Linked DNA regions of Homo sapiens: region 2 is linked to region 1. The links come from fine-mapping of genetic effects on gene expression. A gene starts in region 1. The other region holds a variant in brackets. All regions are shown on one strand. Distances are between the middles of the regions. Region 1 holds the start of ACVR2B-AS1 (ACVR2B antisense RNA 1). Region 2 overlaps ITGA9 (integrin subunit alpha 9).

Region 1 (10,862 bases):
TGCTCCCTCTTGCGCAGAGGCTCGCCCACACAGCTTTTGTTGCTATTAGTAGTTTGTCTCTATTTGCTTGTATTTTGATGTTTTGAGGGAAATCCTGTCACCTGGTTTTTCAGTGAGTGCACTTGGATGGTCTGGTTTTTTCCATACAGTTGCTCTGTGTTTTTCATTTTTATTTATTTATTTATTTTAATTAATTAATTATTGCTATTTTGTGAGACATTCAAGTCTTGCTCTGTTGCCAGGCTGGAGTGCAGTGGCATGATTTTGGCTCACTGCAACCTCCACCTCCTGGGTTCAAGTGATTCTCCCACCTCAGCCTACTGAGTAGCTGGGACTACAGGTATGTGCCACCATGCCCAGCTAATTTTTGTATTTTTAGTAGAGACAGGGTTTCACCGTGTTGGCCAGAATGGTCTCGATCTCTTGACCTCGTGATCCACCTGCCTTGGCCTCCCAAAGTGCTCAGATTACAGGCGTGAGCCACCATGCCCAGCCTTATTTTTATTTATTTTTAACAAACGGGGGTCTCACTATGTTGTCCAGGCTAGTCTTGAACTCCTGGGCTCAAGTGATGCTCCTGCCTCAGCCTCCTGATGTGCTGGGATTACAGGCATAAGCCATCACACCCAGCTTACTCTGTGTTTTCATGTGAAGATTTTGAAAGATTCAAAAACAATGCAGCCAACAACCTAACCATCATCTTCCCAGTCTGGTAGAAGTTTTAAGGGCCAGCATTTACCATGCTCTCTTTCCCTTGTCTCTCCAATAGTAGAAGCATGTATCAAAAGGTAGCCCTCTTAGTCTGTGTCCCTGAGTTATTACAATGAGTAGAGCTTGTTTGTTGACCTCCAATGGATATGTATCACGAGAAAGATATAAATTTTGTTATTTTAAGCCATTAAGGTTTTGGGATTTTTCCATTAGCACAGCATAATCTAATCTCTCTTGAGAGATAGTGTTAGCTTTCTACCCAAGCCAATTCATTTTTTTGACCTCAAGTAACCACCATTAAGTTAAGAGAAAGGGGCGGGGAAAGTACGAGGTCTAGGAAGAAAATAAATAAGGCAAAGAAATAAAGCACTTTGAGAACTGTGTCTAGGAAATAACAGATAGCTTATTAAGTCTTGGGGGAACTGTATTACCAAAGAAAGTATACACTGCCCACCCCTCCCCCAACAATTATACACTGTGAATGGTACTCTCATAAAATTGTTTAATTTCGTATTGCTATGCCTAAATTACCCACTACAGTGAATGTCTAACCAGGGCCTCTCAGAAACTGAGAGAGGGTGAGGCCACTTATATTTTCTCAAATGAAGAAATTCCCAAATAACATTATAAAAACTGTGGTTACTTTCAAAGTTTATCTTGCTAAATGAATGTATTTAATCCCTTAATAGAATTCATTATAATTATATAGATGCCAAGTCTTATTACAATGCTATAGTTTTCCATCTTCTTCCATAGCTTGATACTAAAGAATGTCATGTTCAACTGATTCTTCTCAATTCCTTGGTTTCTGGTCTTGATTGTTGAAGGGTGGGGAAGCCAGGGAATAGTGGTCCTAACACACTGAATGCCTTAATGGCAGAATTCACTGCCATAAATTCTACAGCAGACATTTGGGGTTTCAGATTTTTTTTGCCTTTCAGTTTTTGGTCACCCGATGTCTGATACCAAATGTGATATTTAGCAATCTTGTAGTCGTTCAAAAGAACAGAAAACCCAAATAGAACTCGTTTTTCAAATATCCATTATCACCTTTCTCAACCAGCCTAGTATTTGCTTGATGAGCTCATGATCAAAATGATGGCAGGGAATCACTTTGGTTACTATATGGAAGATTTATTTAAGGCAAGAATGAATTCAGAGGACCAGTTAAGCTCCCTTCTGGTTCACTGCTATTGCAACAGTCCAGATATAAGACAATGTTGCAGTAGTGTACATGGAAAAAAGTAGTCGGATGGTGGATACACTTTTGAGGCTATTTTGCTGATGGACTGTATATGGGAGGAATCAAGTATTGTTACCGAAACACCAGGGGTTTGGTCTAGGTCCTGCTGCTCGGTGCACAGAAAGCCAATCACTGAGATGACAAGTATTGCCAAGGAAGAAGGCTTTAATCAGGTGCTGCAGCCAAGGAGATGGGAGTGCAGTCTCAAATCCATCTCCTTGACTGACCAAAACCAAGGGTTTATATAGCAGGAAAGAAATGTAACAATATGTAAGAAAACAGGAACATGGGAGGGGCAAGGAAGCAATCATGGTGACTGAGGGGCCCAGCATCTAGTGCAGTGATCTGGTTTCAGTTCTTTTGATACTTTTTATGGCTTCAGTTCTTTGATACTTTTTGTGAGAGGCCTGAAGGTCCTTTCCTGAGGAAGGAACTCGGATAAAACAAGTAAGTTTCCAGCTTTAACTGCAAAAGGGTCAACTTCTATAATCCCAGCACTTTGGGAGGCTGAGGCAGGCAGGTCACCTGAAGTTGGGAGTTCAAGACCAGCCTGGCCAACATGATGAAACCCTGTATCTACTAAAAATACAAAACTTAGCTGGGCATGGTGGCGTGCCTGTAATTCCAGCTACTTGGGAGGCTGCGGCAGGAGAATCACTTGAACTCAGGAGGTGGAGGTCGCAGTGAGCCGAGATCGTGCCACTGCACTCCAGTGAGGGCAATAAGAGCCAAACTCTGTCTCAAAAACAAAAACAAAAACAAAAACAAAAACAACTGTCTATGGGACTCTTTGGCTGGTTTCAGTAGGACTCATAAGGTTCTGATTTGAGCAATGGTGTAGTTGCTTATGCCATTGATTCAGACAGGGAAAACTGGGGAGGAGATTTACGGGGAAAATGAGGACTTCTGCTTTGGCTAGGTCAAATTTGAGATGCCTGATAGGCTACCAACTGCAGTTGTCAAGTAAGCAGTTGGATATAAATTTGGGGTTCCCAGACAGGTCAGAGTGGAAGACACAGATATTTGGGCAGCTTGGACCACTCTGAGTCCTTATTATGATACCTGACCTGGTATGGAGTAGAAGAGAGGAACCAGCCAATCTAATTTTTGGCACATGGATAAAAGTCGATACCTTTCAGTCCATATTGGAATGGAGATAACGATTTATACTCCCTAGAAAAGACACTTAAACTGGATATGGAATTACTTCCGTTATCACAGTCTATCACTGTGGCCTCCTGTGTTATTACCAGATACCTTATACACAGCTAGGGTGTCCCATACAACACTGCTTCTTGCTTGGCACACAGTCGCATAGTATTCAATCCTGTGTTAAATGGCTTAGATAATAAGTCACCTGTAGGGATTATAGCAAGCAGGGACCATCATTTTCACATAGAATTTCCCAGGACTGGAAGGGACTTTTAAAGACCCAGAAATCTTTCTGGGCAGTGCCTCCAAAGTGTGGCCCCTGAGGTGTTCCTGCTGCTCTGGTGACCGGGGGTAGTTGACCCTATTTCAATGTCAATCAGAACAATATACATTCCTTTATAAACTTGTTTTTTTTTTGAGAGAGAGTCTCACTCTGTCACCTAGGATGGAGTGCAGTGGTGCAATCTCAGCTCACTGCAACCTCCGCCTCCCTCCTGTGTTCAAGCGATTCTCCTGCCTCAGCCTCCTACCGAGTAGTTGGAATTACAGGTGTGTGTCACCATGCCCAGCTAATTTTTGTATTATTTAGTAGAGACAGGTTTTTGCCATGTTGGTCAGGCTGGTCTCGAACTCCTGACCTCAAGAGCCTCCTGGGCCTCTAAAAGTGCTGGAATTACAGGTTTGAGCCACCTCGCCCTGCCTATAGTGAACATTTACATAATATTTTGTTTGACTAGGTTTCTGCCATTAAGAAGATGCAAAACCCTGAGGGAGTGTACCTCTTCACTTTGCATATGGGAAAACTGAGGCTCAGAGAAGTGAAATGACTGAGACCTCCAGGTGCCACCTCCCTTTCAGCTGCTCCTGCCCTGCTCCAAGCAAGGATGTGCCAAGTCAAGAGAAGACAGAGGACAATTAATGTTATCTGAGGATCTCGGAGCCTCATCCCTGAGCTATGATGGTCTTTCCCTCCTTAGTTGGGAGCCCCATCACGTTCCTCCGAAGCTCTAGTTGTGTGATAAGGAGGGTGGAATCTGAGACAGAGAACGATGGCCCTCCAAGGAGGGAGTTCGGGGTGAGGAAAACAGCAAAACCATGTGCTAGACAAGATCTTCAACTGCAGGGCTCTGGAGGCAACTGGGAAGTTTTGAAAGTGCAGATTGAAGCTCAGGGCCGCTGTGGGTGGCGCAGGAACTGCAGAAGACAAGATAGGATTAGGGAGGGCCAGCAGGTTGCCAGAGGCCCTTTTCCACCTGCTGGGCTTAGAGGGGCGGGACTCTGCCCGCTCCCTCACTTGGTTGGGTTTAAATGACCACTCCCCGCCCTAGCTGTGCCTTTGAGTGTGTGGCAAGGGATTGCAGACGGGAGACTGCTTGTCAATTCAGGGAAGTCAGCCTCTTTCTGCCACTTAATTCGCCCATCAGTAGAGATCCGACTTTCCCACGGTTCACTGTCACCCCCATTGCACAGGTGGGGAATCCAAGGCACAGAGGCGTCTGGGCCAGAGTCCCGGGACTATCCACTCATTCCGGGGTTGTAGGGCAGCATGTGTCAGGAGCTTGGGCTCGAGCGTGCGGGGCACTAATTGCGAGTGCAGTGGCCACAGGCTCCCGGGCAAAGTGGTCAGGAGCCCATTCCCGCCACCTCCGTCCGCGCGCCCCGCCCTGTCCTCCAGCAAGTTGGTGCACGCGCGTCCTCCCACAGGGCGCGGGATGGGGGCGGGGCCTCCGTGTTGTTGTTTCTCTGGGGCCCCGCCCCTCAGGGGGGCGCGGACCACGCGGCCGGAGGGCCCGCCTCCCCTCCCCCTCCCCGCCCAGCCCGCCCGCCTCTTTGTATCCAACATCCGGGTTTCCCCGCTGGCTCGGCTCCGTGGCCGCCGCTCAGGAGCCATTTTGGACTCGGTTCAGCTCCCCTCCCCCCCACCCCTCCCCCCGTTCATGGCCCCTCCGGACTCGGCCCCTGCGCCCGGGGCCCGGGCCCAGCCCCGCCGCGCTATGCCTGAGTCGGGCGCGCCCCGGCCCGTGCCCCGCCGCCGCCCCCCGGCCCCCGCGTCGCCCCGGAGCCCGGGCCGCAGCCTGCGCCGCCCGCAGCGGCCCTGAGCCCGGCCCCGCCGACCGGCCCTTGGAGCCCGAACGCTGCTCGGGGACGAAGGCGCAGGAAGCGCGCAGGGAACGAGACCGAAGGAAGGAGCGGGAAGGAGAGCGCAGCCGCCGCCTGGCCCTGCGCGCCCCGGGAGCGCCGTGCGGCCCTGCCCGCGGGCTCCGGGTGTGCGCGGGGCGGCGCCGCGGAACATGACGGCGCCCTGGGTGGCCCTCGCCCTCCTCTGGGGATCGCTGTGCGCCGGTAAGAACTGGGCGCGGCGCGGGGACGCCGAGAGGGCGCGCGGGGCTGGCCTCTGGCGCCGCGCGGTGTTTACCAACAAAGGGCGGGCCCGGGGCCTCGTCGCCGCACCACCTGTATTCAGCCCTCACCTCCGGGGGCGTGGGCTGGGGGCGCGGTGGGCGCCCGGCTCGCCGAACTTGGGGGCACGATCTTGTCTGTGCAGTCATCTGCGGGATTCTGGTTCCTAGAGGCGCCCCTGCGATGGGGGCCGGGACGCGGAGCCTCAGGGTCGGAGTTCGGGCTACGCGGGCGCGTGGAACCCAGGGAAAGAGTGAGGAAAACCTGAGCGTGGGGAAGGCGGCCAAGAGGGGTGGGCAGATCTCATTGGGGGTGGCAGGATTGTAGGTGCAGCAGCAGCAGCAGCATGCGGGGAGGGTTGCATGTCCCTCAGAGTCACTAAGTGTAGCGAAGCGAAGGGGGCGGCTTCACGCAGCCCAAAGTCCCCTGCATCTCTTGCCACCAGTCTGCGTCGCGTTACCGGCCCGGCGGGCTGTTGGTGCTGGCTCCCACCTGCTCCCTCTTTCCCTGCCGTTGGCCCCGGGATGCGGAGTGTGGTCGCTTCGCGGGACCGCTTTGTTTGGGCACTTGGGAGGGGAGGGGGTGGGTAAGATGGAAAACCCAACAGGTCCCTCTTCCTTCGGGCCTCCAGGAGGCACGTGGCGGGGTGGGTGACCAGCGCTCAGCTCGCCCGCGGCTGCGGGCGTGTGGCTGGAGGTGTTCGGCCAGCGCATGTGTGTTTGGGGGTATGTGGGCGCGGGCGTAAACAAGCGGAGTTCCGCCTGGAAAGCTTGTTTCTCCTACGGTCCAAGCACCGATTTCCCTCTCTCAGTGGTGCCGGGGTGCGCCTAACCCCGGCGGGCGCGCCGGGACGTCCCCTGGCCAGTCCTGGGAAACGTGGGGAGCTGGGCATTGAAGCTCTGGCGAGAAGGTCGGGGCGGCTGGTACCCGGCCGCCGGGTCCTGCGCGTCTTTGTTCCCAGCCCCCATTACACATGCAGCGCGGGTCCCCCGCCGCCCTCGGTGGCAGCCGCCTGGAGTCTGGGAAACCCTCGAGGGGCGGGGCCGGGCGTGCAGGGGCGGGGCCGGAGTCCCCACGCTGCTGCGGGGGTGGGGATTTGGGATCTGCGTCCCATTCCCACCCTGGTTCTACCTTCTCCTGTGCGTCGTCGTGAGGCTTAGTTTACACCGAAAGCGAGTGAGTTCTGTAGGGTAGTAGCGCGCGCGCGCGCAGCCTGAGTCCGGAAACCGAAGGGCAAAGACCAGCTGGCACCTGAGTACCGTATGGAAGAGGGCGTTGCAGCTCTCCTGGAGCCGCTTCTTGGAGGCGAAGTGGTGGTCGTGTTGGACTTTCTGCTCTTTTTTGCCCCGCTCCCTTGGGATGCCTTTTCCCCAAGAAGGAGTGCTCGAAAGTGAAAGGGGAGGCATTGGTCTGCTAGAGGGAGGGCGGCAGCAAGCTGACTTGATAGGCAGACCGCAGCCCACCTGACTGCCTCCAGACCCGCTGGGTGCCTGATCCCTGGAAGTGCTGGGGCTCTTCCAAGCCCAGGCCTTTAGGAGAGCTTCCTCCCAAGACAGGACAGCTTGAGACCTGGGATCTGGGGATCACACCAGTCTCACACCTCCCTCCTTAGGCAGGGCAGGGCGGCATCAGACCCCTGGAAGGACTGTATGTCCTTTCTTTTTCCTCTGCTTCAGTCACCTAGCTTGGGCAGTGCTGAGCAGTGTACCCTGCCAGGGGGCAGTCAGAGTCACACTATAAGGACCTGTATTCCTGCCCTGGGAGGAAGGTGGGGGTCACTGGGTATTTCTTGTAGTCACATCAACCAGTCCCTGACCTGTGGAGAACTGTGAAAAGAGCTGCCCCAGGCCCAGTTTGGAGCAGACCTGACCGTCCTGTTGCTTTGGCTTCAGGGATGCCCTTTAATTTCAAGCTCCTGGCTTGCTGTTTGGAATAACCCCCATACTGTGCAGCACACAATGCCTGCTAGAAGGAACATCTAGAAGAGTGCTGTGTGACAGAAATAGTGTATGAACTATGGATAGATATAAAACAACGTTTTCTAGTAGTCGTGTTAATAAAAGGAAGAAGAAACAGCTGTGTCTTAGCTGGGGCTGCCATAACAAAATACTGTAGACTGGTGGCTTAAACAGCAGAAATTTATATTGTCAAAGTTCTGGAAGCTCTAAGTCTGAGCCCAGGGTGCAGGGTGCTGGCATGGTTGGGTTCTGGTGAGGACCCTCTTCCTGGCTTGCAGATATCTGCCTTCTTACTGCATTCTCAAATGACAGGGGTGGGGTGGGGCAAGGGGGTGTTTTCCTCTTTTTGTAAGACTGTGAATCCTGTTCTCATTACCTGATGGCCCCACCCTCATGACTTAATCTAACCCTCACTACCTCCCAAAGGTCCCGTCTCCAAATACCATTACACTGGGGGTCAGAACTTCATTGTATGAATTTTGGGGGGACACATTCTTTCCATGAGATGGAATGAACTTCAATAGTATATTTTACTGGCCTGGCACAGTGGCTCATGCCAGTAATCCCAGCACTTTGGGAGGCTGAGGTGGGAGGATCACGAGGTCAAGAGATCGAGACCATCCTGGCCAACGTGGTGAAATGCGTCTCTACTAAAAATACAAAAATTAGCTGGGTGTGGTGGCACACGCCTGTAGTCCCAGCTGCGCCAGAGGCTGAGGCAGGGGAATGGCATGAACCCGGGAGGTAGAGGTTGCAGTGAGCCGAGATCATGTCACTGCACTGCAGCCTGGTGACAGAGTGAGGCTCCGTCTCAAAAAAAAAGTATATTTCACTGAATTTGATATATACAAAGTAATTTCAGCCTGAGATCAGTATTAAAACGAGACATTTTGCATTCCATTTTTGTACTGTCATCAAAATCCAGTGTGTGCCTTACAGAACATCCTCAACTCTAACTTTCCACATTTCCAGTGCTCTGCAGAACATTTGGTTAGTGGCTACCATATTAGACAATGGAATCTCAGAAGGGAAGGTAGAATTTATGGTGTAATAAATGTCACATGGTGCTTGTCACAAGATCAGTCAGTGGTTAGTTGGTTCTTTAATAATTCTTCAAGTCTTTTGTGGTCTGTGCTTGGCCGAGTGTCCTTGGGAAACAAGCCATTTGGCTCTTGCATTTCAGTGGACATCCTGGACACTCAATGCTGTATCCTACAAGAACTCCTGACACCTGTCTCTGTACTCTGTACTTGGGGTTCAGATCAAAGGGCTTATGGGGGTGGGGTAAACAGTATTCTAAGTGAAGTGACCAGAGCTCTTGGAGAGGGACCTGCCTCCTGTCTATCCCATCAGGAAGTGCAGGCCCTGATTACTCTGATAGGCTGACCCAAAGAAGTTTCTTGGCCACTTCCTTGGGGGAGGGCGGAGGGAGTGAGCTCATGAAGTGAAGTGACTTTCATCCCTCAGGCCTAGTGTAGCGGTAGCTGCCAAGGACATGGGCTACAGAGCCATGGGCCGTGGGTGCCCCTCCCAGAGAAGAGTGTTTTCTGCTACCTGTCCTTGTATCTGCTGGGCACTCGAGGCTCTGCCCTGTCTGGGTGGGCTGCCTTTTGGGAGGAATGGGTATCCTCCCTAGCTCTTAGGGGCCCTTTCAAGGCAGATGATGTGAGAAACCTGCCCATCTTTCCAGGCCCTATAGCTGGGTAAAAACATAAGATCTAAACCCTATGGCCTCCCATCACTTGGGTGGGCCTCTACTGTGTACTACTCTGTGGGTCTTTCTGGGCATCAAGAATCTCCAGAAGCACCTGGACCTCTGCTGGCACTTCACCTAAGGAACTCCTGTTATAAGGAGCCAATGAAGAGCCCACATTCTATACAGTGGTCCTCCATGTCATAGACCCCTCTGAGAATCTGATGAAAGCTGTGGACCCTTCCTCCAGGAAAATGTAAATCGGTATATGTGTGCATGTGTGTGTACATTGTATGCACCCACTCTGTTTTGTACAGATACTGGGAACCTACTGCCCCCTGATTAGACTCCTTGAAGTCCTGGCTGCCCTGCACATATCCACTGTAGTAGTCTTAAGGGGCAGCTTGTTCTGCGGGGGAGGGGTGCTTTTTCCACCTTGGTACCTCACTTACTTTGCCTTTTGTGATCCTGCCGGATGTTCAGATTCTAGCCCTGGTCTCTCTTTCCAGAAAGCTGTCCTCTTGAGTGCCAGCCTATGCATTCAGCCCCTCTGCTTGGGAGCTCAGGGTAGTGCAAATGAGAACCAAGGAGTATCGGTTCAGGAGTTTAGATCCACTCACGGATACTGACCTGTCACCATGGATTGGGATCTGGAGGGTTGAGGACTGGGTCTGGATAATATTTTTGCTAGTGACTGTAGATAGACTCTAGATAGTCCTGAGGCAGGGTCCTGGTTGCATGGGCCTCACTGTAGAACAGGGTTTCTCAACCTTGACACTATTACATTTTGGGCCTGATGATACTCTGTTGTGTATGGGTAGTGGTGGGTTGAGCTGTTCTGTGCATTGTAGGATATTTAGCAGTATCCCCGCCTCTACCCACAAATTCCAGTAGATCCTCTTTAATCATGTCAACCAAAAATGTTTCCAGATCTTGCTAAATGTCCCTGGCAGAGGTGAGAGCAAAATCATCTCAGATTGGGAACCACTGATCTAGAATGTTCTCACGCTTTCAAAGAGGTCTACAGTTGTAAGAAGTAGGGGTAACGGCTTTTGAGTGCATATCCATCCCCCCACTCTGGATGCAGGGTTGGAGGTGAGGTTCTCCTCAAAGCCTAGGAGATTCCTGCTTAGTGAAATCTGCTCAGCACGTGAGAGTTTGGTTCAAAATTAGTGGTTCTGGTGTACAGCTTACCACCGAGGAGAATCCTGGCGTCCTTGAGTTTTCCCAGAAGTGGTTCAGGTTTCAGGGAGGCGGAGGCTGTGGGTGGCTGGGCAGCCTGCCTGCCCGCACCCGCCCACTCGCCTCTGACCGTTGCCTTAAGGCTGGCACTCAGCCTCTTCCTCCCGTACACGCAGAAATGCCAGGAAGTGCCTGTTGCTGGGGACTCTCTGCCTGCCCAGCAGCCCCTCTCTGCTCACCTGGGGGCCTCAGGAGCTAAGGCTAGCCCTGTCTGCCAAGCGGAGCACTGGGGTTGTAGCAGGCCGTGGGCATGCCCCTTCCCCTGAGTGGACCTGCCATGTGGCGCTCCGGGGAGCCGCAGAGGCTGTGGGCCTGGAGCCCCCAGGCCGGGGACACCAGGGCAGGTGGGCAGCCTCTCCCCAAAGGTATGGGTGCAAGTCTCTCCCTCAGGGTGTGGTGGCCAGATGGGAATCTGAGGGCAGGGCCAGGCTTCCTGCTGTGGACCTGGGGAGGTGTGGGCAGC
Region 2 (10,862 bases), 670 kb before region 1:
CTCTATCTCTACCAAAAAAAAAAAAAAGAAACCAGCAAAAAACAAAACAAAACAAAAACTAGCCATGTGTGGTGGCATGTGCCTATAGTCCCAGCTACTCAGGAGGCTGAGGAAGGAGGATCACCTGAGCCCAGGAGGTTGAAGCTGCAGTGAGCTGGACTACTGTACTTCAGCCTGGGAGACAGAGACCCTGTCTCCAAAAAAAAAACAAAAAACAAAAAACAAAATTTCCAAATTATTAGACACTTAAATTTTAAAGGACAGTAAGTCCCAAACTGTGAGAAACTTTTATAGGCAACATCCTCTTTTCTAATAGTTTAACTTGAGGATATAAACCTTCACCTTATTTATTTTCAGACATATATAGTAAATCCTGGAATGTATTCAGATCAAAGATAAAATAGAGATAAATTTAGCAAATTTTGGTGGTCTTGTTTTATAATTCACTATTAATAGATTAGCATTGTTAGCTTTAGTTTATTTGTGTAGCAAAAACTGACCAATAGAATCTAATTAAACTGAAGAGCTTCTACACAGCAAAAGAGACTATCAACAGAGTAAACAGACAACCTACAGAATGGAAGAAAATATTTGCAAACTATGCATCTGACGAAGGTCTGATCTCTGTCATCTATAAGGGACTTAAATTTGCAAGAATAAAACAACTCCATTAAAAGGAGGGCAAAGGACATGAACAGACACTTTTCTAAAGAAGACATACCTGCAGACAACAAGCATGTGAAAAACTCAGTATCACTGGTCATTACAGAAATGCAAATCAAAACCACGGTGAGATACCATCTCATACCAGTCAGAATGGCTATTATTAAAAAGTCAAAAATTGGCCTGGTGCGGTGGCTCATGCCTGTAATCCCAGCACTTTGGGAGGCCGAGGCGGGCGGATCATGAGGTCAGGAGATGGAGACCATCCTGGCTAACACGGTGAACCCCATATCTACTAAAAATACAAAAAAAAATTAGCCGGGCATGGTGGCAGGTGCCTGTTGTCCCAGCTACTCGGGAGGCTGAGGCAGGAGAATGGCTTGAACCCAGGAGGCGGAGCTTGCAGTGAGCCAAGATCGCGCCACTGCACTCCAGCCTGGGCAACAGTGAGCGACTCCATCTCAAAAAAAAAAAAAAAGCAAAAGTCAAAAATCAACAGATGATGGAGAGGTTTTGGAGAAAAGAGAATGCTTATACACTGTTGGTGGGAGTATAAATGTGCTCAACCATTGTGGAAAGCAGTGTGGCTATTCCTCAAAGAGCTAAAAGCAGAACTGCCAATTAACCCAGCATCCCATTACTGGGTATATATATACCCAAATGAATATAAATCATTCTACCGTAAAGACACATGCACATGAATGTTCATTGCAGCACTGTTCACAATAGCAAAGACATGGAATCAACCTAAATACCCATCAAAGACAGATTGGATAAAGAAAATGTTGTACAGATATACCATGGAATACTATGCAGCCATAAAAAAGAATGAGATCATGCCCTTTGCAGGAACATGGATGGAGCTGGAGGCCATTATCCCTAGCAAACTAACACAGGAACAGAAAACCAAATATCACATGATCTCAATGATAAGTGGGAGCTAAATTATGAGAACTCATGAACACAAAGAAGGGAACAACAGACACTGGAGTCTATTTGAGAATGGAGGTTGGAAGGAGGGAGAGGAGTAGAAAAAATAACTATTGGGTACTAGGCTTAGTACCTGGGTGATGAAATAATCTGTACCAAAAACCTCCATGACACAAGTTTACCTATATAACACACCTGCACATGTACTCCCAAACATAAAATAAAAGTTAAAAAAAAACCAACAGCAAAAAAAGTTTTTGTTCCCTACCATGAATAAAAAGTTGAAACATTCTTGAACAACTATATTTTACTCAAGGGCATTATAGACAGGGCAATTTAACAGATGCCTGTGGTTAGCCATGGGATTGTAAGCACAATTCTAAATTATGAATTACTAATTATTAATTTTCTGGTTTAACCTCACATCCTGTCCAGCCTTCAGCTACAACCAGTGTGATATGGTGATATATAAAGAAGACTTCATTTTTCTAACAGTTCCTCAATTTAAACATCAGAAAGAGTGCTGTTCTTAAGGAAATCATCAAGAAAGACTAAGCACCATTGTTTTGTTTCTGATGTTGCTGTCACTCAGCACCGTTGCCATTGCTGTCAGAAGCAAAATCAAATCACTCACCAAGAGCTCGGCAAGCATGCAGGTCCCCGTCTGGCTCAGGGCAGAGACTGGTCAGTTATTTTTTTGGTAGCAAAACTCTGGCTTTAGAGTTGGACCATGAGCAGTCCTGCTTGCTGCTCATTCCCTTTCTCTAGAAGGACCCCTAAGGAGTTTTACAGCACCGTGGGGGCTTTCTAGAATGGTTGAAAACCTCTGGCAGCAGATCATCCATCAGGCTTGGTCCCAAGTTCCAGACCTGGGTTCTTGACTCCATGACTGTTGGCCAGTGACCTAAGTTCAGTCTCATTTTCCTCATTCAGACAAGAATTGCTTGTAAGGATGTTCTTAAGTGTGCTTTCAAAACCATGGAGTATAAGGCTTATTTTACTCCTTAAGTCTTCCTATTTCCTAGTCACATCTCATTTGCATGTTATATGCCATCTCATCAATTATTGGGGGACCTAAGATCCACATTTTCTATTATTTGGCCCTGTTGATGCTACAACTTCTGCCTTTCAGCTTTTCAGCCATTGTTCTCCACTTCAAAATGGACAAGGAGGAAAGGTGAATTGGGGTTCTACCACTCCTGCCTCTACAATAAGAGGCTCCAGCATCATGATTCATTCTTGAGAATGACTCCTCTGACAGGCCTCTTTTCATTTGCAGGTGGGCCAAGAGAAGGGAAACTGCTCTTTCCAGAAAAACCCAACTCCCTGCATCATCCCTCAAGAACAAGAAAATATCTTCCACACAATATTTGCTTTTTTCACAAAGTCTGGAAGAAAAGTCTTGGTAAGGATTTGTTTAGTGGTTGGGGTAACACGGGTGGTCCTCACTCGGAAGACACCAGTTTTCTATTTGATATTTATTATTTCCTAAATCTGGTTTTAATCAATTTGACTTACAAAGGCACAGACTGTGGTCAACTCCTAATTTTCAGTCTGAGGTTTCAATCAAAATGTTAAATTTACATTCCAAATCCTATTACCTGGAAAAGGGATAAATCTTTGCAACCCACCAAGCACAAAGTAAAATGTTTCTTCCACTAGAATGAGTCTAAACAAGAGTGATTATTCTTGTGCAAACATTTTGGGAAACTGTTTGATAATATCTACTAAAACAAAACGTGTGTATCCTATGACACAGCCATTCTACTCTTGAGTATATCCCCAAGAAAAATGAGTACTTGTGCTTCCCAGAAAAGACATGAAAAAGGATGCTCACAGAAATGTTAAAATAGCTGAAAGCTGAGAACAATGCAGATATCCATCAATAGGAGAATAAGTAAGCAATTGTGGTATATCCATACACTGGAATATTACACAGTAATGAAAAATAACAAACTACTGCTAATGAATGAATCTCACAGACAGAATATATTGAGTGGAAGAAGCTAGAGACAAAAGCCACATATTGTAATATTTCACTTATACGAAGTTCAGAAATAGCAAAAACTAATCATGATGATAGAGGTCAAGAAGGTGGTTACTTTCAGAGGAATGTGGATGGGATGGGGCATGAGGGAGCCTGCTTAGATGCTGGAAATGTCCTACATCCTAATCAGGGTGGTAGTCCTCCAGGTATAAACACATGTAAAAATTTTTAAAGACAGGCCGGGCACGGTGGCTCATGCCTGTAATACCAGCACTTAGGGAGGCTGAGGGGGTGGATCACCTGAGGTCAGGAGTTTGAGACCAGCCTGGCCAACATGGTGAAACCCTGTATCTACTAAAAATACAAAAATTAGCTGGATGTGGTAGTGGGCGCCTGTAATCCCAGCTACTAGGGAGGCTGAGGCAGGAGAATCGGTTGAATCAGGGAGGCAGAGGTTGCAGTGAGCCAAGATCGTGCCACTGTACTCCAGCCTGGGCAACAGAGCAAGACTCTGTCTCAAAAAAAAAAAAAAATTATAAAGACACACACTTCAGATTTGTTCTATTTACTATATTTGTTACACCTCCATTTTTAAAAAGTGCAGGTATTGAAGATGGAATGACAATGCTTTCCAAAGCCTCCTTTTTTTTATCTTTGGTTACATTTCTCTAAGCTCCTTATTTCAGCCCTGGCACATCTCACCTTTATCATTTCCTTTCTCATTCTTTTCTCCTGTTGGAGAAGGGTGACTGTTTGCCACTTGAAAGGTTGGGTTTTTTTTTTTTTTTTTTTTTTTTACTTACATAGTGAGGGTGATATTGTTGAAAGCCCTTAGACTTGTTAGATGTAGTGATACCTAGTGATTTTATAGTTACGACTCTGTCTGGCTGAAAATTTTGCCGTATAGATGAAACATCATCAAGGTATGTATACGCATTTTGGAACCTATCATATAAAAAAGAAAACTTTTGTAACTTAAATTTGGGATTTATGTTTTTGGTTTTTTGTTTGTTTGTTTGTTTTGAGATGGAGTCTTGCTCTGTCGCCCAGGGTGGAGTGCAGTGGCATGATCTCGGCTCACTGCAGCTTCTGCCTCTCGGGTTCATGCAGTTCTCCCGCCTCAGCCTCCCCAGCAGCTGGGACTACAGGCGGCCACCACTATGCCTGGCTAACTTCTGTATTTTTTGTAGAGACAGGGTTTCACCATGTTGGCCAAACTGGTCTTGAACTCCTGATCTCAGGTGACCCCCCTACCTCAGCCTCCCGAAGTGCTGGGATTACAGGCGTGAGCCACTGCGCCCAGCCGAGATTTACGTCTCTATTGTAACTTTTGTGTTTTCTTGAGGAAGTGTCACATGACTTCTTAGCCCTCTTATTCACCTACCTAATAAATAGGCATGAAAGTATATTTGCCACTACACAGGTGGAAGTCACATAATGTAGGAAACGTGTCTGTGTTCAAAACTCATAAGAATGCTTTCAGAATGCAAAATTTAAGTTTGTGGGTTTAAAAAAAAAAACAATTATTTCTCTTTGTGAATTCATCCAATTCTTGGTAGGATAAATTAGTGAGCTGTTTTCTCCCAGTTGCTTGACTTAAAGGCATGCTCTGGTTCCCACTGGGTGGGAAATCCCTTGAATGCCCTCTGGTGGCGAGAAAGAACGATTGCATCTTCTTGTGGATTTCCTCTGCCTGGAATTGCCTTAGTCACCAAGTTCATGGAGCCCACTACTCTGTAAATTGTTGTGGATTTGTCTTTGTTCTTAATTCCATTGGAAATTTTTCTGACTTTTCTTCTCAGGACTGTGAAAAACCAGGAATTTCTTGCCTAACAGCACACTGTAACTTTAGTGCTCTTGCTAAAGAAGAAAGTCGTACTATAGACATTTACATGCTGCTGAACACAGAAATACTGAAAAAGGTAAGCCCTAATGAACCGCACTTGTGGATGCATTTAGAAGCATTTGAATTGTTGACATCTGATTTTGGGTAAAAAAAAGGAAAAAGGAAAGCATTTGAATTGGTGTCCTCATGACAATCTGGCTGCCCCCCCTTTTGGCTGTCTACAAGAGACTGTTTTTATTTTTATGTATTTAGGGGGTACAAGTGCAGACTTCTTATATGAATATATTGTATCGTGATGAAATCTGGGCTTTTAGTGTACCCAATAGTGAACATGGTACCCAA[C/T]AGGTAACTTTTCAACCCTCACCCCCCTCCCACATTTTGGAGTCTCCAATGTCTGTTAATTCCACTCTTTATGCCTATGGGTACCCATTACTTAGCTCCCACTTATAAGTGAGAACATGCAGTAGTTGACTACTTATGAGTTATTTCACTTAGGGAAATGGACTTCATTTCCATCCATGTTGCTGCAAAAGACATAATTTAATTCTTTTTTATGGCTGAGTAATATTCCATGGTGTGTGTGTGTGTGTATATATATATATATACCACATTTTCTATAACCAGTCATCCATTCATGGACACTTAAGTTGATTCCCTATCTTTGCTGTTGTGAATAGTGCTGCAATAAACTTACCAGTGCAGGTATATTTTTTATACAATACTTCTTTCCCTTTGGGTATATACCCATTAGTGTGATTGCTGGATGGAATGGCAGTTCTATTTTTAGTTCTTTGAGAAATCTCGATACTGCTTTTTTGATTGTACTAATTTATCTTCCCATCAACAGTGTATAAGTGTTCCCTTTTCTTTGCATCCTCACCAACATCTGTTGTTGTAGTTGTTGTTGTTGAACTGTTTAGTAATAGTCTGGCTGCCCCTTTTGAAACTTTTCCAGCAAGTGCCATTGGTAATTTTGCTGGTAGATAATGCCAGGGTAAAATACCAGACCCTTGCTACTCAAAGTGTGGTCCGAGGACCAGCAGCATCAGCATCACCTGAGAGTTTCTTAGAAATGCAGAATCCTGGGCTCCACCCCAGACTTAATAAATCGGCATCTTCATTTTTAACACATTCCCCAGGGATTTTGTTTGGCCATTTAAGTTTCTCATGCTTTAGCTTGCATCAGAATCACCTGGAGATCTTGTTCAAACACAGATTCCTTTGGGGTGCAGTCTGAGGCTCTCCAGTTGCCACAAGCACCCAGGTGATGCCAGTCCTGCAGTCTAGGGACCTCGCTTTGGATGAAGGTTGGCTAACCTTTTCTGTAAAGGGCCAGTGGTAAATATTTCAGGCTTTGCAGGCCCTACAGTCTCTTGCAACTGTTCAACTCTGCCATTGTATTGTGAAAGCAGCCATAGACAACACTCAAATAAATGGGCATGGCTGTGATCCAGTAAAACTTTATAAAAACAGGCAGAGGGCCAGATTTGACCCATGAGTCCTAGTTTAAATGACGGTTTGTTTTGGTCCAACTTTTGAACCTCAGGTCACTTTGCTATTATGAGTTTATCACAGGTGGTTCATTAAAAAACCACCTCAACCAGTGCATCGGTGGCTCTTGAAGAATCATACAAATTTCCTATGATTTATTTTAAGGTGAGAGCTGCTGAGAGGCCACTTCCAACAAGTTGCTGTAAAAATAATTACATGTGAAGATAAAACTAAATATGCATGTTAGCCTCAGAGATTCCAATTATTTTTCTTTAGAAAGACTAAATGTGTTAATCTGTACAAACCTATCCACGTGTGAATGAATAACCTTAGAAAAGTCATTCTGTGGTTATTTTTAAATAGGCACAGAGGTAACACACTGACCTGAGAGGATGCAGGCATCAGGGGATGTTTTTCCATTTTCAATCTGTAGCCGTTACAGCCCTCACACACCTGAAGAGAGCTGTGCATAGTTCTGGTTTCTCTGGTTTGCTCTGGAGGGAAACTGGTTTGGGGCAAGTTGGACTCACACTGCAGTGCTTTCTTCTCCCTTTGTACCTCTCCCTTTATAAAGGACAGTGTTGGAGGAGGACCAGGCCTGACTTAGAGCACCACTGGCCATCCTCTGATTCCATAAGGGAGGCTGGAAAACCCCACGTCTGGAGAAGTACCTTCCTGAAATGTGTCCGCAGGCCAGGCTGGAGGACTATGCCTCTGCATATGTACCTGTCCTGTTTGTATTCTTCAAAAATGGTGCTGCAGACAGTTTTATTGCCTGTGCCATACTTGCCACTGTCCATAGAGCCCTGGTGACAGCACTGGTGGCTGTAAGCCACTCTGATGTTTCCTTTATCCTCAACCCAGATGGCTGCTGCTTGCACTTCAGTTATTTGCACTTAATCATGCACAGCTCTGCAGCCTGGTTCTTCTGCTTTTCTATCCCGGCAGCCAGTGGTGACCCTTTGCCAAGGAACATGTCCCAGTGACTACTGTCCCCATGGGCCAGCCAGGCCAGTAGAGCCGCAGGCAAGAGAGCTGAAAGCTGTAGGGTGTCATATGAAGCCTTCAAGGCTCATTCTCCATGTGCCCTTTCAGCAGAAACCAGGAGCACTTCCAGGTGCAGAGAAAAGCTTAGAACAAAGTTGACCTGGAAGCCAGATGGGGCCCCAGCTGCTCCCAGAGCTTCAGTTGCCCTGAAGCCAGCTACAGCCTCCCTTGGGGAGTGGAGCCCACATGGCTCCAGGCCTCCCGAAGGATGTGGAGCAGCGCCAGCCTTGTGGTTTGCCTGGGCCTGCAGTCGTGTTTATTTTCCTTTTGACCTCAAGATCTGGCCCCAGACAAGGGAATTTGAGGTTTTACTGTTTTGACCTTAACAAGTTTTCATTTGAAATGTAGGATCTGATTTTTAAAATCACTGTAGGAGCCGGGCGCAGTGGCTCACGCCTGTAATCCCAGCACTTTGGGAGGCTGAGGTGGGCATATCACAAGGTCAGGAATTCAAGACCAGCCTGGCCAACATGGTGAAACCCCATCTCTACTAAAAAATACAAAAATTAGCCTGGCATGGTGGTGGGCACCTGTAGTCTCAGCTACTCGGGAGGCTGAGGCAGAAGAATCGCTTGAACCTGGGAGGTGGAGGTTGCAGTGAGCCAAGATCGTGCCATTGCACTCCAGCCTGGGCAACAGAGCGAGACTCTGTCTCAAAAAAAAAAAATCACCGTAGGATTCGGATTTTTTTGGAAGTATTCTTCTTTCAGTCTGTAAGGCTTTTCTCACTGATTCTACAACCGTGGGGGCCCATCCTGTGCCAGACTCCTCGTCTGCTTGGCCTGTAACGTTGGCAATTATCATCATCATTATCGTTATTAATATCCAAGTTTATTTTTATTTATTTTAATGTTTTTATTTAAAAAAATATTTTTAGAGACAGGATCTTGCTCTGTCACCCAGATGGGAGTACAGTGGCTCAATCATAGCTCACTGCAGCCTCAAACTCCTGGGCTCAAGTGATCTTCCTGCCTCAGCTAGTCCTCAGCTAGGACTGCAGGCACATGCTACCATGACAGGTGAATTTTTTTTTAATCTTTTGTAGAGATAGGATGTTTCCCCAGGCTGGACTTGACCTCCTAGCCTCAAGTGATCCTCCCACTTCAGTCTCTCAAAGTGCTGGGATTACAGGCCTTAACCATCGTGCCTGGCCCAAGATTATTATTATTATTCAAGATTGAAAATACAGCATATCCTGATACATAAAACCCCAACTTTATAAAACTGTTAAATTGGTAAAAGATTATTTGTTGCTTAAAATTATTTCTTGCTTAAAGTGAGTTAACTGGAGTAACTCTTTTGAATGACAAGCTTCCCAAAAGCATTTAAAATGTGTCTTATGGTTGTTTTAAGAAAAGAATGATAATTGGTGCATAACTCCCAAGTCACATATACAGACCAGGGTCCCTGTGTGCCCCAGGAAGGTCTTTGTGGTTTCTTTGGCAGAGATGAGCAAAGGGTACCCTTGGAACTGTTTTCTGTGGAGTCCTCTACCTTCCTGTTTCTTTGAGGGTTTAACCAAAGGTGGCATTTAAGTGTAAGCTCCTTGCATGACAGGCAAGCTGGGTAGATGTAGGTGGGGACACCACAAGACACCTTGCCTGTGGAGCCCCTCCTGCCCCACAGGTAGAATGTTGAATGCACTAGTTCTCTGCTATCTGTTTCCACGACAGAAGCCAGGCTGCCCTTCTGCTCCACAATCAACCTGTACCACTGGCTTGAGGTTCTGGCTTCTCCCCAGACCACAGTTTTTCCAGTCCCTGTCTTCTTCCAAATTCTTTCTCCATCCCTGTTTTGGCGCCATTTTCTGGTTATCTGGATCAGTGTCTTTGAATCTGAGCCCACAGGAAGACCTCTGCCTGCCTCTGGCTGGGGGGTGATTCCAGAGTCTTAGCTGTGCTCCCTTATACCCCTGCCCCTTTCTCCTTAATTCATAAGCCAGATATTTACCCCTTCCCCATCTCTCCATCAGGCATCCTCTTTCAATGTTTAATGGTTTTGATTCCAAAATGACTTCATTTAAGAGCAAAGAAAGAGTTAAAAGCAACTCATATGAAGGGTTTGAGGGTTGTGGTCAAGGCAGGAAGATGCCTATAAAATGTAGATCAGATGCCTTCTGTGGAATGCCAGGCCTAGATTTGCTCTACACAATTAAACAGCTTTATTTATCCTCAACTCTTTGTGAACATGTCAATATCAATATCCAAATATCTGGCTCTAACTGCTTGGAAACCACAGCACACATCTTGCGTGTGTTGATTACTGGCAAACTCCATCATTTCCCACCATCCACCATGATCTGCAAAGAATCCTTAAGAGAGACCCTAGTCTGTGTTTATGTGGGTGCCTGGGATGGAGAGGTATCTAGTTCAATGATAAAATTTTTGTCTGGGCTACATGGAATCATGGAATTTCAGTTCTGCCCAGTCCCTCTCAAGGCCCAGCCATTATCATAGAAAAATCTTCAAGTAAGTTGTGTTGTTTCTTCCACAGGACAGTTCGTCTGTCATCCAGTTCATGTCCCGCGCCAAGGTGAAGGTGGATCCTGCCCTAAGGGTGGTGGAAATAGCTCATGGGAACCCAGAAGAGGTGACGGTGAGTCAGCCACCCCAGGACAGCCCTCCTCAGAGGGCAAGGGAAGCTGGGTGACTTGGAGACCTGGAGCTGGAATTTGAGGGTCAAGACAGTCTCTGAGCCAAGATGTTGGGTTTGTGGCAGACCCAAGACTATGCCTGCCTTGGCTTCCAGGCCCCCCCTGGAGAACTTCTGTGGTTCGTTCTTGTGATAGCATTGTCCTTTAGGATGCCATCATTATGTGAATGTTTCCTGCTATGATTGTCCAAAGGGAAAATGGTCTGGAAGTACACCCACGTCAACAGAGTTGGATTTCCACTGTGG

The links. PIP is the estimated chance that this variant, and not a neighbour inherited with it, causes the effect.
Region 2: its variant is fine-mapped to the expression of ACVR2B-AS1 in stomach (GTEx, PIP above 0.99).

The regions. Positions count from the first base shown.
Region 1 is chr3:38,448,926-38,459,787 of GRCh38, forward strand. It overlaps ACVR2B-AS1 (ACVR2B antisense RNA 1), which reads right to left and starts at 5,895. Exons shown (of 2, transcript NR_028389.1): 1 at 5,578-5,895; 2 at 2,102-4,300. ACVR2B (activin A receptor type 2B) reads left to right here and starts at 4,965. Exons shown (of 11, transcript NM_001106.4): 1 at 4,965-5,449. The coding sequence starts at 5,398. It also overlaps a transcript of XYLB not described here. RefSeq lists enhancers at 4,547-5,046, 5,651-6,234, 6,235-6,819 and silencers at 4,765-4,814, 4,825-4,944, 5,365-5,644, 6,455-6,634.
Region 2 is chr3:37,774,520-37,785,381 of GRCh38, forward strand. ITGA9 (integrin subunit alpha 9) reads left to right here. Exons shown (of 28, transcript NM_002207.3): 24 at 2,873-2,998; 25 at 5,383-5,502; 26 at 10,458-10,559. All of the region lies in intron 3 of ITGA9-AS1 (ITGA9 antisense RNA 1), which reads right to left. Among named protein-coding and RNA genes, the nearest start is that of ITGA9-AS1, 82 kb to the right of the region's middle. The variant C/T (reference allele first, on the strand shown) is at 5,769.